Linked DNA regions of Homo sapiens: region 2 is linked to region 1. A link means that fine-mapping ties the variant in region 1 to the expression of a gene that starts in the linked region. Tissue or cell type: aorta. Region 1 holds a variant in brackets; the other region holds the start of a gene. All regions are shown on one strand. Distances are between the middles of the regions.

The links. PIP is the estimated chance that this variant, and not a neighbour inherited with it, causes the effect.
Region 2: it holds the start of CHMP1A, and the variant in region 1 is fine-mapped to the expression of CHMP1A in aorta (GTEx, PIP above 0.99).

The regions. Positions count from the first base shown.
Region 1 is chr16:90,098,503-90,106,589 of GRCh38, forward strand. FAM157C (family with sequence similarity 157 member C) reads left to right here and starts at 3,762. Exons shown (of 4, transcript NR_126161.1): 1 at 3,762-3,940; 2 at 7,657-8,087. LOC105376786 (a long non-coding RNA gene) reads right to left here and starts at 3,661. Exons shown (of 2, transcript XR_933914.3): 1 at 3,246-3,661; 2 at 2,677-3,130. The variant T/C (reference allele first, on the strand shown) is at 3,571.
Region 2 is chr16:89,654,401-89,662,481 of GRCh38, forward strand. It overlaps CHMP1A (charged multivesicular body protein 1A), which reads right to left and starts at 3,308. Exons shown (of 7, transcript NM_002768.5): 1 at 3,182-3,308. The coding sequence starts at 3,188. It overlaps SPATA33 (spermatogenesis associated 33), which reads left to right and starts at 3,436. Exons shown (of 3, transcript NM_001271907.2): 1 at 3,436-3,548; 2 at 3,848-4,021. The coding sequence starts at 3,512. RefSeq lists silencers at 3,035-3,094, 3,315-3,704 and an enhancer at 3,420-3,589.

The DNA of each region.
Region 1 (8,087 bases):
TCATCAGTCTTCTCTTCACACAGTGGAGTCACTCCTGTGCCTCCCCTGTCTGCACTCCATTGAGCCGGGAAAGGCCTGCAGTAGCCAATGCCCACATTTGAGTTTCAAATGTGAATATACCCAGGGATTGCAATTTACCAAAAGATGAAGGAAAAGGCCTCTCCCAGTACTTGGTCAACATTATTCTGTGGTATTTTTCAGATGAAATTAGCATTTAAGCCAGTATACTTTTAGTAAAGCAGATTATGCTCCATAATGTGGGTGGGTCTCATCCAATCAGTTGAAGGCCTTAAAGGAAGAAATACCTCCCAGGGGAAGAGGGAATTCTGCCCCTGGACTCAAGCCACTCTTCCTTGGATTCTAGCCACTGTAATCACACGAGACAATTCTGGACATCTCCTCCTCTCTTTTCTGTTTCTCTGGAAAACCCTGACTAATGCAATTCTTGTTAAGCTGCTTTTAAGAAGTGTGAAGAAAATATTAAAAAGTTGTAACTAAGAATTTTGAGTGGACGATCTAATTATTTCACACTGGCTGAGATCTCCCTGATGTTGACATTGCAATGACACTGTGCACTTCTTGGGGTAAGAAAAAGTGCAGCCTCAGTATCCCTCCCACTAAATAGGAAGGCAAATTGCCATTTCCCGAAAAGTCCAGAATAGTAAGTAGGTTGACGAGTAACTCTTGAAGTTACATAAGACAAATCAGTTGCAACAGAGGATCATAAACCCCTCGTGTACGGAAGGAAAACAAGTTTGTCAATGTGCAAACTGTAAGTCTAAGTTCCTACTTCTGTAAAAAGTAGAGTTTCCTCTTCAAAGACTTTCCTTCCCATCTCATTAGAAATAAATAGTAACTTCTCTTAGAAGCAAAATTTATTCAAAGACCTGTGCTAACATTGTTAAATATCTGCTAGCCCTAATAAAGAAATCAATGTACTTTATGATCTTAGCTCCCACAATTTAGCCTAAATATTTGCCCTGGCATGCTTATACTAGTCCAAGCAAGCTTTAGGTCATTGCCTGTTCCTCTTCTTTATTCGAAGGTGTTTTTACTTTTTTCAGCATTCCACAAGTTACTTCCTCCTTCCTTCGTTCTCCTCTGCCTTTTCCTCTTTAAAAAAGTTCTAAGTTGCTAGCCAATCGGGACAAATACAGAATGTGAGGTCCCGTTCCAGCCTCTGGAAACTGGACACAGCAGTAGGGTGGATGCATCAGGTTATAAATGACCCTGTCTCCTTTGCTCAGTATACTGTTGTGGCAAAACTGCTGGCGAGTGTACACTTTCTGCAGAAATTAAAAAAAAATAAAAATGGCCTTGCTGAGGAAATTAAATTTACATTCAAGTGCTAGTTCTTTACTGCACTGGGAACAAGCATTTCAAACAATTTCAACCCTGCTGGACTGCATCAAGTGAGGGCCGGGATGGAAAAGCGGCCGTGCCGAGGTGCCCCGGAAGCAGCCTCCGGAGTGTGCGTCAGAGTTTCTGGCCATTTCAGCTAAGACTTTTCTTCTGACAGACTAGAAGTGAAAAAAAGAATTATTTACTTTGCTGGGAAATGTGACAGAAGGTTAAAATTCTACTAGTTCACAAAATATTTGAAGCTAACTTTGTTTTTATAAATAAAATTGTATTTACAATTTAAGTTTTAGTTCTCATCCTTGCTGTTATAAAAGTTATTCTAAGTTATGTCAGTCTTTGAGGGTAAATGTAGAGTATTTAAAATAGCTTATATTTGGAAAACTGAACAGTGTTTGTTGTCATGATTTTACTTTGTTCTTGACCACATTGGTCCCAGAGAAAGTCAAGGTCTTCAGCCACGGATTCAAGATTCTTGTGGCAGCTGCTGATTTCTTTTCCAACAATGCTTGGGCCTCATCAGCGTCATGTTTGTGCACTACCTCAGCCCCAACCACAGACATGGGCAGGAGGAACAGAGCTCTACCGTGTAGCGTCACTGCCAGTAAGAGTCTGGCTCTCCCATGAAGCATTACTCTTCCTCTGCATGTATCTTAGAATTTCAAAAGCCATTTGGCCTCCATTTCTTTAGATTGTGGATAAGATCCATAAACTTGTACTGGGGTCACTGTTCCTCCAGCCTCTTTAGCACGTATCTGCAGTCTCATTTCCAGGCTGTTTCCTCTATGGGCCACTGCCTGCAGAATTCCCAGATGAATCCACTGCCCATTCCCTGTAGCCACATCTCCAAATCCACAGCCGTTCTCAGCAGCTGCCTGCACACTCACATCCCAGAGGTCAAGTTGCCACAGCTGGTGTGTGTTTCCAGCCACTAGGCAACCCCAGGTCTTCATCTGAGCACCCAGGGCCAGAAGTCTCACCCTGTCCCCCGTACCATCCCTTCCCAGCCAGCCACAGTTTCCTTCCTTCTGTTGCCCACACAGTGCTCTCAGCCCCAGATGCCCTTCCTGACACTTCCTCCCAAGGAAACCCAAGTCCTCCGTCAGGGTCCACCCAAATGTCCACACCCTCTGGTAGCCTGCCCAGCCCCAGAGGCTCCCCTGAGCTCCCTTCCCCCATTAGAGCCTACAGAGGCAGTGCTGCCCAGCAGACATCTCGGCTGGGAGTCAAACAGAGCAAGGCTATTTTGGTCCCTCTCTCCACTCTATGTGACCCTGAAATGTGCCCTGGCCTTAGGAAACATTCAGCTACATCAGAGAACGTGAGTATGCATGTGGTTTGTATAACACAGGCAAGACATGGTTTTTAGATACGTTCAGAATAGATAGTTACAGAGAACAGGTATGTTACATGTGGGAAGGAAGAGACACAAGGGCCAAGAGATACTTAATATGCATGAGGCTCCTGGGCACTAAATGTTCAATTCACAATGTGCCTTTATACAAGAGACACCTAAACATGCAGAACCATGGGGCCTTTGTTCACCACCATTCCTGGTGCCCATTCTGGTCCCATGCGTCCTCTGCCCAAGAAACACGTAGAACCCATGGCAGTGCGACAGCTGCTTCTTGGCAACGCCACCATGATCAGGCACACTTGTCCCATGTCTGTCCCGTTGAGCCGGTGTGTGTCATAAGCCCTTAAGCTGTGAGCACTCTTGCCCAGACCTCGGCTCTGGTCCTCGTGGTCACACCTGAGTGGGTGAGGTTGACTAGCAGAGAAAGAAGAGAACCGATGAATGTTGACAGCACAGGAATCAGGTCATACGGCCCTCCCATCTCCTTCCCTCAGCTTCTTGCTGTGTTTTACGAATGGATTTTATAAACCTGTGATTTGAGCATCCTCAGTTGCTTCTCGAGCCTTTCCGCTCCATGAACTCTGGGACAGCTTGCCTGGTACTGCAACTGGAGGACATCATTGCATCCAGAGAGCTTCCCACATGACAGTCTGTGAGCAAGGGACTTCGCCTCCCTGGATGGTGGTTTTCTTTTATGTAAAAGATGTGATCGTAGTCTCTATTTCTCAAGGGTGCTGTGAGAAACACACAGAATAAGTCCACGTGAAAGTGTGTGGCAGGTAGCGGATGCTCAGTAACGTGAAGCCTGCCCTTCCCATAGCCTTTCTCTTCCTCCACTGGGTCTAGACTTCACA[T/C]TGTCCCATGGTTCCAGATCCTTGGTTCATCCCGAGTCTTATCATCATCCCAGAAGCTTGGAGGGAGCTCCTGGGGAAATCCAGCTTCACGGTCCCACACTGATCACTTCCCCTGGGCATGGCCTGGTAAATGCAGCTCAGATCCGCTCCCCAGGCAAGTCAAGGAAGTTGCTGCCCAGAAACCAAGTGAGGACATTTACAAGAACTGGCGGCGGCAGCAGCAGCAGCAGCAGCAGCAGCAGCAGCAGCAGCAGCAGCAGCAACTGGATTTGCTTTTTCACCAGAGGATCCAGATTTCCCTGTGGCCTCGCAAACAAAAAAGAAGGAAGACGGAGCAGCACAGTCATTCCTTTGTGAAAAAGGCATTCAGGTAACTGAGTGACTCAGCAAGCCTGGGTCTTGGGGAAATTACGAATACCTGGTTGAAGGACAGTCCTCAGGCAGAGCCCCTGAGACCTGTTGAACTCTAGAGTGTGGGAGCAGAGGAGATTCAGGGCCTGCCCAGGGGCAGAGTGCCCCCAGGACTCGCCCTGGCTCAGTTAAGGACTCCCCTCAGGATCTGCAGAGGTGCAAGGCAGGGTGCAGCTCTGCCTGGACTGAGCTGGAAATGCAGCCGTGTGGCTGAAGTGGCCACTTCCTGCTTTCTGTAAAGCAGCCACAGGGACCTGTGAACAGGTAAGACCATTGCTCTTGATTACTGAAGAACTAGAACCCAGGCTCCCTTGACCTTCTCTCCAAAAACCCAGATGACACGAGGACCCTCTCCCAGCTGAAGGGGCAGATTCATGCTTTAGAGTGTGGGGAGTCAGCGTGGGGGCACGTGAGTGTTTAGCTTAGGTGTGGGCCTCACAAAAGAGTCAAAACAAGTCAGCCAGGACTCCAGCAGCCTTCATTGTGTGAGAGATGCCAGCACTGTGGCCACAGCCTGACAGCTGCGCAGGCCACATAATGTGTGGGGCCGAGTGGAAAACGTGGGTTTTTTGTTGTTGTTGTTGTTCAAAATCATGAGCTTCCAGGGGCGGCAGCAGAACTTTAAACTACTCTGGGGCCCTTCTGAGCACAGGACTTGGTATGACTGCACAGGGATACCCAGCAGGCCAAGTGCAGCGACAGAGCGGTCTGCCCAGAGGCCAGCAGGTCCCCAGTCAGTGTCTGGCACCAGCTCCCTTCATGACCTGGGCTGGCTCAGTTCCACGGGACTCCCAAGGCTGGAGGCTTCCCTGGAACATCATCCTCAGGGATTTCCCAACAGGAGCAGCCTCTGGCTTCAGATCTGTCCTTGTTTGACTCATAAATTATCACTCAGACTGAGAAAATTAACACTCAGTGATTCCTGAAAGGGTGCCCAGTGCAATAGATAATTTTCAAAGTGAGTTCATCGGGGGATTTAATAGCCAGGCGATGTCCATTAAAACAGTGACAAACATGGGGAGAAAAGGAAAAGTTCCAACTGGAAACTCATGCTGGCTTGACAGTTGTTCTCAGGGAGCAGAACAGAAGTGGGCATTTTCATTCTGGTTACACCATCAGCGATACCTCCACGGAGCCTCTCAGCTGGTTCCTCCTGGGTCTGGGCCACAGGCCTCCCAGTATTGCTGGTCTCAGAAGACATCTGTGGGCAGGTTCTGTAGAGGGAATCTGAGGCTGTGTGGGATGAGCTGCAGGACCCCATGTGGGGAAAGGCAGGAGGCAGCACCAGCTCCTTCACTAGGACCTGAGGGTACTGTGGCTCATCAGGGGCCATCGAGGACATGGAGACCCTGCACAGTGTTTGAGGAGTCCTGCTACATCAGTTTATTCTGGTTTAGGTGGTTGAGGGGAGACTGAGTGAAGTCTTGGGGATTCAGGGCTACACTGCCAACCTCTGGGACAGCAGCCCCAGTGTCCCCCGACCCAGGCCTTGCTCCTCCCTGCTGATGAATGCCCACTCTGCTCCCAGATGCACACCTGTCCTGAAGACACCCGGTTCTCATGCTCTTCTCTGCAGCATCTGAATTGGGCATTCCTGGGTAAAGCAGTTTAAGTTACTTTCACTTTTATCCACCTTGTTTCCGTTATTTCAACCATGCATGTACCTTGTGTATGTAGGATAAAGGTGTCTAAGAATAAAGGTCCATGATTTAAAGTTTTTTCCTCTTCTTTCCCTGTCCTGACCACCTGATCATAAACTTGTAGAAATAAAGTGGATCTCATGTTGTGTATCTTTCGATGCATCTAGAGAGATGGTTATATTCATATAAATAAACGGGCACATCCAGCACACTATTTCTAGTTGTCGTCTGCTAATAAGTTTACATCTGGTAAATGCCAGTGTTTCATCAAATGGCTGCATTGCACATGAGTCAATCTGTGTGACAAAGAATATGGCAGGTTTTGTACAGCCTTTGTAAAGACATTCTTCAATGCTGCCTTTTAAAATAGAAATGTTAAATCCTGTAACTAATCAACCTATGCCTTGTTAGAGGGCTGACATTTTCAATAATTCCTTTACAAAGGGTAGTGAGATGCATCAGATCCCCCAGTGGCCCCCAAGTAGGGACAGTGACAGTCAGCAGTTCTTTACGGACACCTGCTCGTTGGCAGGTTCTCCGCCAGCCCTGGCTGCGGGCGGCCCTCATCTAACAAGATGCTTCGGTCCATGGGTGGAGGACAAAGGCCTACAGGCTTGGGGAGCGAGTTCTTTCGTCTCCTACATGACCTTCATCTGCTCGCGTTTCCCACGAAGTGCATCTGGGTTGGAAGGAGATGGTGGTTTCCCACGGAAGTCTGGTCCCTAAGTGACGCCTCTGCTGCCTACATCAGAATCTCCCAGGCTTGCTCCACAGTGGTCCCGTCACGTGGTGCAGACTCAGGCGCGGTCTTGTGTGTGCAGAGGCAGGCTTGGTCTTGTGTGCTCTTGATCATGCACCTAGTCACATCTGTTCTACAGTGTTGCATTCTTCTAATTTCCATGCACATCTTTGTATAGGCGTGTTCCCATTGTTCCCATGCCAATAAGTGGTGTGCAAGGTTCCAGAGTGCGCCAGTATTTCTTTAGTCAGTGTCATGCTGTTGGATATTCAGGTTTTTTTAACCTAGTGTAAATAACATTCACATTTCTAAAAACCAGAAGAGTGTTTGTGATTAAGATATCATCTTAGTGGATATTAAATTGCTGCATCTGATTTCATTTCTCTTTCCCAAATAAAGAGTCAGTTGTGTGGGCTAGTCTCATTCTGAAACTGCACACTCCCATCCCAGAGGTAGAAAGCGAGATCTCCTGCCTGCATTTCATGGAGCATGTGATTATGGAGGTGTCCAATCCCAGCAAACAGACCCCACATTCTTTTCCTTCAGTGACTCAGACGCAATATGTGGACAGTCCCAGACAGTATCGCTCCCTCACGTTCATTAACCTCCAGAGATTAAACATCACCTGATACACAGAACTGTGGGCTCCCCATTTGGCTAAGCATCAGGTGCAGCCAGGTTCTTACCTAGGTGCACGTGACAAGGTGCTGCCAGATGCCACCAGCACAGACAGTCAGTGAGCCCACCTCATCAGAGGGCACATGAGATCCCCAAATGCGAAAGAACTCTAAGGAGCCAAAATCTGCCAAGATGGGTACATTAAAGCTTGCAACTTTGCACGTGAGTGCACCCTCAGACTCAGCCAGTTTATTCTCCTTTGCAGTCCATTCTGAAAAGTCCAGCCAGATGATGGCTAAAGAGGAGAGAATGGAAGGTGGAAGGCGGTTGCTGCTTGCAGAAGAGGCACGCTGGCAGCATTGGCAGGGAGGAAGAGACTGGAAACTGAGTAGCAGATCCGAGAAACCAAAATGCTCAGCAAATGAGGGCAGGTGGCATGGAGCTACTTCCCTGGATCCAAGAGCCTAATTACCTTATTGTTCCATAAGTTCATGGCCTGCGGTCATCAGGGAAAATAAAACACTGACTGGGGGTCAGTCTTTTCTGTTTAGAGGAGGCTCCCTGAAACCTCCCCCTCCCGGGTTCAAGCGATTCTCCTGCCTCAGCGTCCCGAGTAGCTGGAACTATAGGCGCCCGCCACCACTCCCGGCTAATTTTTTTTTTTTTTTTTTTTTGTAGAGACGGGGTTTCACCGTGTTAGCCAGGATGGTCTCGATCTCCTGACCTCGCGATCCGCCCGCCTCGGCCTCCCAAAGTGCTGGGATTACAGGCGTGAGCCACCGCGCCCGGCTTCAGCTGGTTTTTCAAAAGTCATGGCGTGTAACTGTCCGAACAGTGAACTTCGGAGATCCACCGGAGGGGCGAGGCCACAGCTCGACCGCGAGCACCTGAGCATCCTGCACCGCCTGCGACGGCCGTCAGGGGGCGCGATGCCGCCTCACAGAACCTCAAGAGGCGCCCGGGTTCCGGCACAGACGGCCTGCGGCTCCAGGGGGCGGAACCGAGCCGTCTCCTCAGGACCTACGCAGGAGGCGCCGTCATCCCTACAGGGACACCTGAGAGGGCCCAGCCTCCTCCTCCTCAGGACCTACTCGGGAGACGCCGCTGGC
Region 2 (8,081 bases), 440 kb before region 1:
CAGCCTGGGCCAATTTAAAAGTTCAGTACTTGACAGTTTACTTTTTACAGACTCTTTCTCCTCAAAGGTAAATGGATAAAAATAGCAAGGTGGTAACTCTTAGACATCAAAGAGCTGATTTCCAGCGGTACAGTCGCTCACGCCTGTAATCACAGCACTCTGGGAGGCTGAGGCGGGCAGATCACTTGAGGTCAGGAGTTCCAGACCAGCCTAGGGAATATAGTCAGACCTCATCTCTATTAGAAAAATATATATTTTTTTGCCGGGTGCGGTGGCTCACGCCTGTAATCCCAGCACTTTGGGAGGCCGAGGCCGGCGGAACATGAGGTCAGGAGATCGAGACCATCCTGGCTAACACGGTAAAAGCCCGTCTCTACCAAAAAATACAAAAAATTAGCCAGGCGTGGTGGCGGGCGCCTGTAGTCCCAGCTACTCAGGAGGCTGAGGCAGGAGAATGGCGTGAACCCGGGAGGCAGAGCTTGCAGTGAGCCGAGATTGCGCCACTGCACTCCAGCCTGGGCAACAGTGCAAGACTCCGTCTCAAAAAAAAAAAGAAAAAATATTTTTTTTAAAAAGTAGGATTGATCTCAATTCATTCAACTGCTAAATTTGGAGAGCGACCCTGACCCCAGATTCCTGAAAGGGCTTTACCACACTAGCCACAACGAGGAAATGGAGCCTGTAAAAGAATGAGGTTACTGAGTGTTCACAAATGCACACCAAGGCTCCAAGATGAGATCTCCCGGGGTTCCAGAAAGCTCTGGGCATCGTTCAATCTATCGCCTGTCAGTGCAGGCGTGGTCAAGGCCAAGTTCAACCTGTCATCTATCAGTTCAGGTGTGGTCACGGCCAAGGTTATCTGTGACTGGAAAACAGCCAGCCTGACCCAGATGGCACAGTGCAGGCCAGGCGGGCCGTCCCACCCAACTCACTGTGGGATGCTGGCCAAACCGCCCTCCTCATCTCAGCTTTCCCTCACCTCAGCTTTCCCTCACCTCAGCTTTCCCTCACCTCAGCTTTCCCTCACCTCAGCTCTCCTCACCTCAGCTTTCCTCACCTCAGCTTTCCCTCACCTCAGCTTTCCTCACCTCAGCTTTCTCTTCCAGCCGTGTGTGGCAGCACAAAAACCCAGCTAAGGCAAAATCTGACTCTGAGGAAATCTGACATGGGCTTGAGAGAAGTCCCCTCAAAAGAGTTGAGTGAGCTGTGGAGTGAAAAGCCACAATTTTTCTTTTTTTTTTTTGAGACGGAGTCTCACTCTATCACCCAGGCTAGAGTGCAACGGCACCATCTTGGCTCACTGCAACCTCTGCCTCCCAGGTTTAAGCGATTCTCCTGTCTCAGCCTCCCAAGTAGTTAGAATTACACGTGCACGCCACCAGGCCCAGCTAATTTTTGTATTTTTAGAAGAGACGGGGTTTCACCATGTTGGCCAGGCTGGTCTCAAACTCCTGACCTCAGGTGATCAACCAACCTCGGCCTCCCAAAGTGTTGGGGTTACAGGCGTGAGCCACCACATCCGGCCTCCCAAAGTGCTGGAATTACAGCCGTGAGCCACCGCGCCCGGCCTCCCAGAGTGCTGGGGTTACAGGCCTGAGCCACCACACCCGGCCTGGCCAGCATATTTTTTGTGGCGGGAGGTAGATGTTATCTTTCATCTTCTCTCAGGGCAGAAAATCTCTACACATTTCCTTCATGATGATGACACGGTGGTACTATAGCTTTTCACACTTCTAACTAAAAGAATTTTTTTTGAGACGGAGTCTCGCTCTGTCGCCCAGGCTGGAGTGAAGTGGCGCGATCTCGGCTCACTGCAAGCTCCGCCTCCCGGGTTCACGCCATTCTCCTGCCTCAGCCTCCCGAGTAGCTGGGACTACAGGCACCCGCCACCACGCCTGGCTAATATTTTTGTATTTCTAGTAGAGATGGGGTTTCACTGTGTTAGCCAGGATGGTCTCGATCTCCTGACCTTGCGATCCGCCGGCCTCGGCCTCCCAAAGTGCTGGGATTACAGGCGTGAGCCACCGCGCCCAGCCCTTCAAAAAGTATTTTTAAAAGCCTGCCCATCACACCAGCCCAACGATGTTTCAGCAAACATAGGACTTCATTTTGCCAGATTCTTCCTGTTCTTTGGTATCCCTGAGCACACAGCCGGCTAGCCCCAGATGTAGAAGGTAAGAATTAGGGCGACCCATTGAGCACAGAAACGCTTGTGCTGGCTCCTGCTCAAACCTCTGCTTCCCCACATGGAGAATGGACGCAAAGAGCTGCTGTGACCAGGGCCTGGCACTCAGGGAGCGCTTTCTGTCTGAGTCCTTCTGATTTGCAGTGATGCTGTTTGGGGCAGGGGGTGCAACTGTCACTTTTTCTGGTGCCCTCTGACCCGACATTCCAAGTCCCGAAAGGCCGAACAGGCATCGCACAGTCCCCCCTACCGAGCTGGCGGGAAAGGGCGCCTGACGCTGAGGAGTGCCAGGGGCGGGGGAAAGGGTCCTGGGTCGGTGGTCGGGGGTCCAGGCCCTGGGCAAGGGGTCCTGGGTCGGGAGTCTAGGTCCCGGGTCCATGGTTGGGGGTCAGAGGTCGAGGCCCCGGGGAAGGCATACCGGGTTGAGATTTGGGGATGGAGGCCCCGGGGAAGGGGTCCCGAATCGGGGGTCGGGGATCGAGGCCTGGGGGGAGGGGTCCCGGGTCGAGGGTCGAGGCCCGGGGTAAAGGATCTCGGGTTGGGGGTCGGGGGCCTGGGAAGGGTCCCGGTCGGTGGTCGGGGGTCGAGGCCCGGGAGAAGGGGTCCCGGGTCGGTGGTAGAGGCCCTGGGGAAGGGGTTCCGGGTCGGGGATCGAGGGTCGAGGCCCGGGAAAAGGGGTCCCGGGTTGGTGGTCTAGGCCCTGGGGAAGGGGTTCCGGGTCGGGTATCGGGGGACGAGGCTCGGGAAAAGGGGTCCCAGGTCGGTGGTCGAGGCCCTGGGGATGGGGTCCGGGTCGGGGATCGGGGGACGACGACCGGGAAAAGGGGTCCCAGGTCGGTGGTCGAGGCCCTGGGGATGGGGTCCCGGGGGATCGACGGTCGAGGCCCGAGCTCTCCTGAGTCCTGCCCGCGGCCCCAGGTGGGCGGAGCCCACGCCAGTGGGAGAAGCGGCCCCGCCCCGCGCGCGAGTCCCCGGAGGACGGCCGCGACCTCTTACCGTCCATGGCCACAATGACAGGAGCAGCACTCGGAGAGGGAGAAGGGACGCCAACTCCGGGCGGTGTCAGGTCCCGGCGGCGATCGAACCGACCAAGCTGCACCCGGCGGGGACTTCCGGGGTCGCCGCCCCACTTCCGGTCGCACGGGATGCTCTCGCGAGAGGATGGTGGCCGGTCCCGCCAGAGGGGCGGGGCGCGGCTGCGCGGCGCGCGGTCGCCATGGTGACGCACGCCGCTGGCGCGAGGACCTTTTGTGAGTCGCTCCCGGCTCCGCGGCCGCGGAGGTGTGGGGACCCGGGCTTGCGTCGGAGGGGGCGGTGGGCTCACCCATGGGCCTTTCCAAAAGCAAAGAGAAACCCAGGAAAGGTAAAGGAGGCGCAGGCGCTGGGCTCCCCGCGTCTCCGCCCCTGGGCGCGGGCCCAGGGCGGGGCTGGGCTGGGCGGGGCGGTGTGAGCGCAGGCGCCAGGCTCGGCCCGGTGCGAACCGTTCCTGCCGCCGAGTCCGCCACGGACGGCGCGTTTCCCGCCTGAGGCGGTTACGGAAACGCGGAGACTCGAGACTTGAAGCCAGCTTATTCTGGACCCACGCAGGCGACTGAAGACGATGGGACCCACTGCCCTGCATTCGGTAAGTCCCGGGTCTAACGGATGATCCATATATTTCAGGTGAGGAGCAAAAGAAGGGATCCACCTATTCAGTTCCAAAATCTAAGGAGAAGTTGATGGAGAAGCATTCCCAGGAAGCCAGGCAGGCAGACAGGGAGTCGGAGAAGCCTGTGGACAGCCTCCACCCGGGGGCCGGGACAGCCAAGCACCCGCCGCCGGCAGCTTCGCTGGAAGGTAGGAGACGGCGGGAGGGAGCGAAGCGAGGTCAGTGGCTTGGAGGATCTGGGGCTGGGGTGAGGAGCCTACTGTAAGACCCTACCGGATGGACACTAGTAGCAGGCACGCGCCGTAAAGATGAAACTGGTTTGTTTTGGGAACTTTATGTAGGAGGTAAATATCCAGAAATCTTAGTTGAAAACATAAGTTTAATGAAAATGTAGGTCAGTTCCCGAGTGATAAGTGCGTACCAGGTGGTCGAGGGGCTGGGGCAGTGTGCGTGTGTCTCACCTGAGGTTCTCCTCGAGGGCTGGGTATCTTGGTGCCACTGAGAATCCCTGAGCCTCCGCACACTGGAACAGAGCATTGGGAGGCCGTCCCAGGCTGGACTGTAGCTCTCCGAGGGCTGTGGGGATAAGTACATTGCGGAGGGTGACCGAGGAGTAGAACCTGGGTGCGACAAAGGTGTCTTTTATAACAGCCTAGTGTGGCCAGACCTTTGGGTGTGTGTGGGGAAGATGAGGCCCCAAAAGTAGGAAGAAGCTAGAATACAAAGTTTTCCATCAGTTTTACCACGTGGAGCTGGAAGCGTTAAATATTTTAAACAACGGAGGTGCTGCCTGGGGCGGTAGTTCACACCTGTCCTCCCAGTTATTTGGCCGAGGCAGGAGGATCTTTTGAGCCCAGGAGTTCAAGACCAGCTTGGGCAACATAGTGAGACCCTGTCTCTACAAAAAATAAATATTTAAAAATAAAAAACAAGGGCGGCATGATGAGGTCTGTGCCTACCAACAGGGGAAGCCAGTTCGCAGGGGAGGTGGCCCGGTCAGAGACCCATTGCTGTGGCCCAGTGGGAGCCAGCAAGGCCTTGCAGTAGGAATTGCAGAAGGGTCAGGCAGGGAGAACCCGCAGAGCCTGCCGTCCGAGGAGATTGGGGGCCTGTGCCAGGAGGAGGTGTTTTAAGTTTCATCACAAGAATGAACCACTCGGCTGGGCGCAGTGGCTCACGCCTGTAATCCCAGCACTTTGGGAGGCCGAGGCGTGTGGATCACTTAAGGTCAGGAGTTCAAGACCAGCCTGGCCAACGTGGTGAAACCCTGTCTCTACTAAAAATACAAAAATTAGCTGGGCGTGGTGGCATGTGCCTGTAATCCCAGCTACTCAGGAGGCTGAGGCAGGAGAATTGCTCGAACCTTGAACCGGGACCCGGGAGGCAGAAGTAGTGGTGAGCGAGATCGCACCACTGCACTCCAGCCTGGGCTACAGAGTGAGACTCTGTCTCAGAAAAAAAAAAAAATAATAAGGAGAGAACCACTCGGGTCAGACAAGAAAGAATGTCAGGGGGATGACTGGCCTGCTAGGCAGAGGAGCTGGGCCTGGACTGCTTCACACTGACACGCTTGTAGGATCAAGGGCTGAAAGTAGGAGGCTCTGGGCCTTGGACTTGGAAGAAAGACTTGGATTTGAATTCCCAACTTTGGAACCTCCCACTGGAGGGTGGAACCCCTCACAGGAGGGCGCAACCCCCCACCGGAGGATGGAACCCTGCAGGAATAGCATCACCCTTGGGTGGCAGTTTGGAAAATGCTACCTGTCTGTCACGGTGCTTTTAGCTGAAAGTTACAGAAAAGCTCACTAAACGCAGCTTTAACACAGGGATTTAATGTCTCACGAATGAAGGGTCAGAGGTGGAGCTTCCAGGTTGGCTTGTTAGCACAACAGTGACATCAAAGACTTTGCGTGTCTCTTCTTGACCACTCTCAGTGTCCACAGCCCCCGATGAGTGTACAGCCCCCCACACGCAGGCAGGACTGCATCTACTGCAAAGGCATTGCTCCTTGCTTCATATTAGCAAGGAAACCTTTCCCAGGAAGGCTTCGCCTGCCCAGCCTCTGCAGGACTCATTCAATGGTGCAAATTCACCAGGGGCTGGAGGGAGCTGTGAAGCATGGGAGTGGGCAGGACCTCTGCCAGTAACGGAAGTGGGGGAAGGAGGACCGCCTGTTGGAAGGGCCCCAGCAGTGTCTGTCACACCAGAGGGTGGGGGAGGAAGGTGGACATGAAGGGAAAACAGCAGAGCAAGAGTGAGAACAGAGTTTCAGCAGATAAAATGAAGTGTGCACGCTCTCCATGCAGTGACGGGCTGAGCGACAGTGAGGAGCAGGCTGCTGACTCCCTTGCCACACCGTGAAGGAGTCCCAAAGGTGGGACACTGAGTGAGACAAGCCAGAGGAAAGACCACTCATGTTGCAGTTCCCTTTCCATGGAATGTCCAGAAAAGGCACATTTACAGAGAGAAGCAGATGAGTGGTTGCTGGGCAGAAATGGGAGCCGGCCACAGCTGAGCACAAGAGGACTTTGGAGGGTGATGGAAATGGTTTTCGACCTGAATCTGAACATGGGAAGCACTGCAGTTTAGTAGTCCTGGTCCCTAAGCCCTTCCAGCCCAGGAGCCAGACCTGTGAGCAAACAAGCCTTTAGTGATTCCAGGCTCTGGCTGGAACCTTGAGTCTTCTCAGCTTGGGGCATGCACCTCAGGGGGAGCCAGCATCAGTGTCCAGCCCCAAGAGCTTCCCTGTACGTCTCAGTGAGTCTTCACATGCCTCCAACTGCCTGGACAACCACACGTGATACCTGTCCTGCCAAACGTGTCCTGAACCCATAAAATCCAGAGAAAAGAAAATCGTTTTAAACTGCTGAGGTTTGGGGTAAGTTACTATGAAGCAGTAGTGAGAAGAACAGAAGGGCCATGATGGGGAGAAAGTTTGGCCATAAGTTAATCACTGTGGCAGCTGTTAGGATATTGATGTGGCTTGGCTGTGTCCTCACCCAAATCTCATTTTGAATTCCCACATGTGGGAGGAACTGGGTGGGAGGTGATTGAATTATGGGGGCAGGTCTTTCCTGTGCTGTTTTCGTGATAGTGAATGAGTGTCACGAGATCCGATGGTTTTAAAAACGGGAGTTTCCTGCATAAGCTCTCTCTCTGCCTGCTGCCATCCATGTAAGATGTGACTCGCTCCTCCCTACCTTCCGCCGTGATTGTGAGGCGTCCCCAGCCATGTGGAACTGTAAGTCCATTAAACCTTCTTCCTGTGTAAATTATTCAGTCTCTGGTATGTCTTTATTAGCAGCATGAAAACGGACTAATACAGATAGATGTATTATACTGTTACCCCTACTACTTCTGTATATGCTTAAATTTTTGCATTACAAAATTCACAAACATACAAACATTATAGAGAACTAACATCACAGATTTACAGTCACCTTATTCCACAATGTTGGAAATTCTACCACAAATAAAGAACTTGAAAAAAAAGGAGGGGATGTTAGAAGGAAATCTGAGCGACCTAGACCTGGGCTCAGTCACGCCTGAGACAGTCAGATGGGGTATCTGAGGATGAGTCAGTGTTAATTTTCTCAGACCTGGGCTCCGTCACTCCTGAGACAGTCAGATTGGGTATTTGAGGATGAGTCCGTGTTAATTTTCTTAGATGTGGGAATGCTATTATAGTTACGCTAAAACACAATCCCTATCTAATAAATACACTGCAACATTTATGGGTAAAATCATATGTCTGAAATTCCTTAAAGATACTCAGAATGCCAGGCATGGTGGCTCATGCTGTCATCCCAGCACTTTGGGAGGCCGAGACGGGTGGATCACTTGAGGTCAGGAGTTCGAGACCAGCATGGCCAACATGGTGAAACCCTGTCTCTACAAAAAATACAAAAAAATTAGCTGGGTGTGGTGGTGCACACCTGTAATTCCAACTACTTTGGAGGCTGAAGCAAGAGAATAGCTGGAACCCAGGAAGCAGAGGTTGCAGTGAGCCACGATCATCCCACTGCACTCCAGCCTGGGCAATGGAGTGAGACTCCATCTCAAAAAAAAAAAAGATACTCAGGAAAAAAACGAAGAAAGAACAAGATAACAAAATACTGATTGAAGCTGAGTGCTCTATAGGTGCAGGTGCTCATTCACTATTCTATTTTCTTGTGTGTTTGAACACTTTTTTTTTTTTTTGAAATGGAGTTTCCTTCTTGTTGCCCAGGCTGGAGTGCAATGGCATGA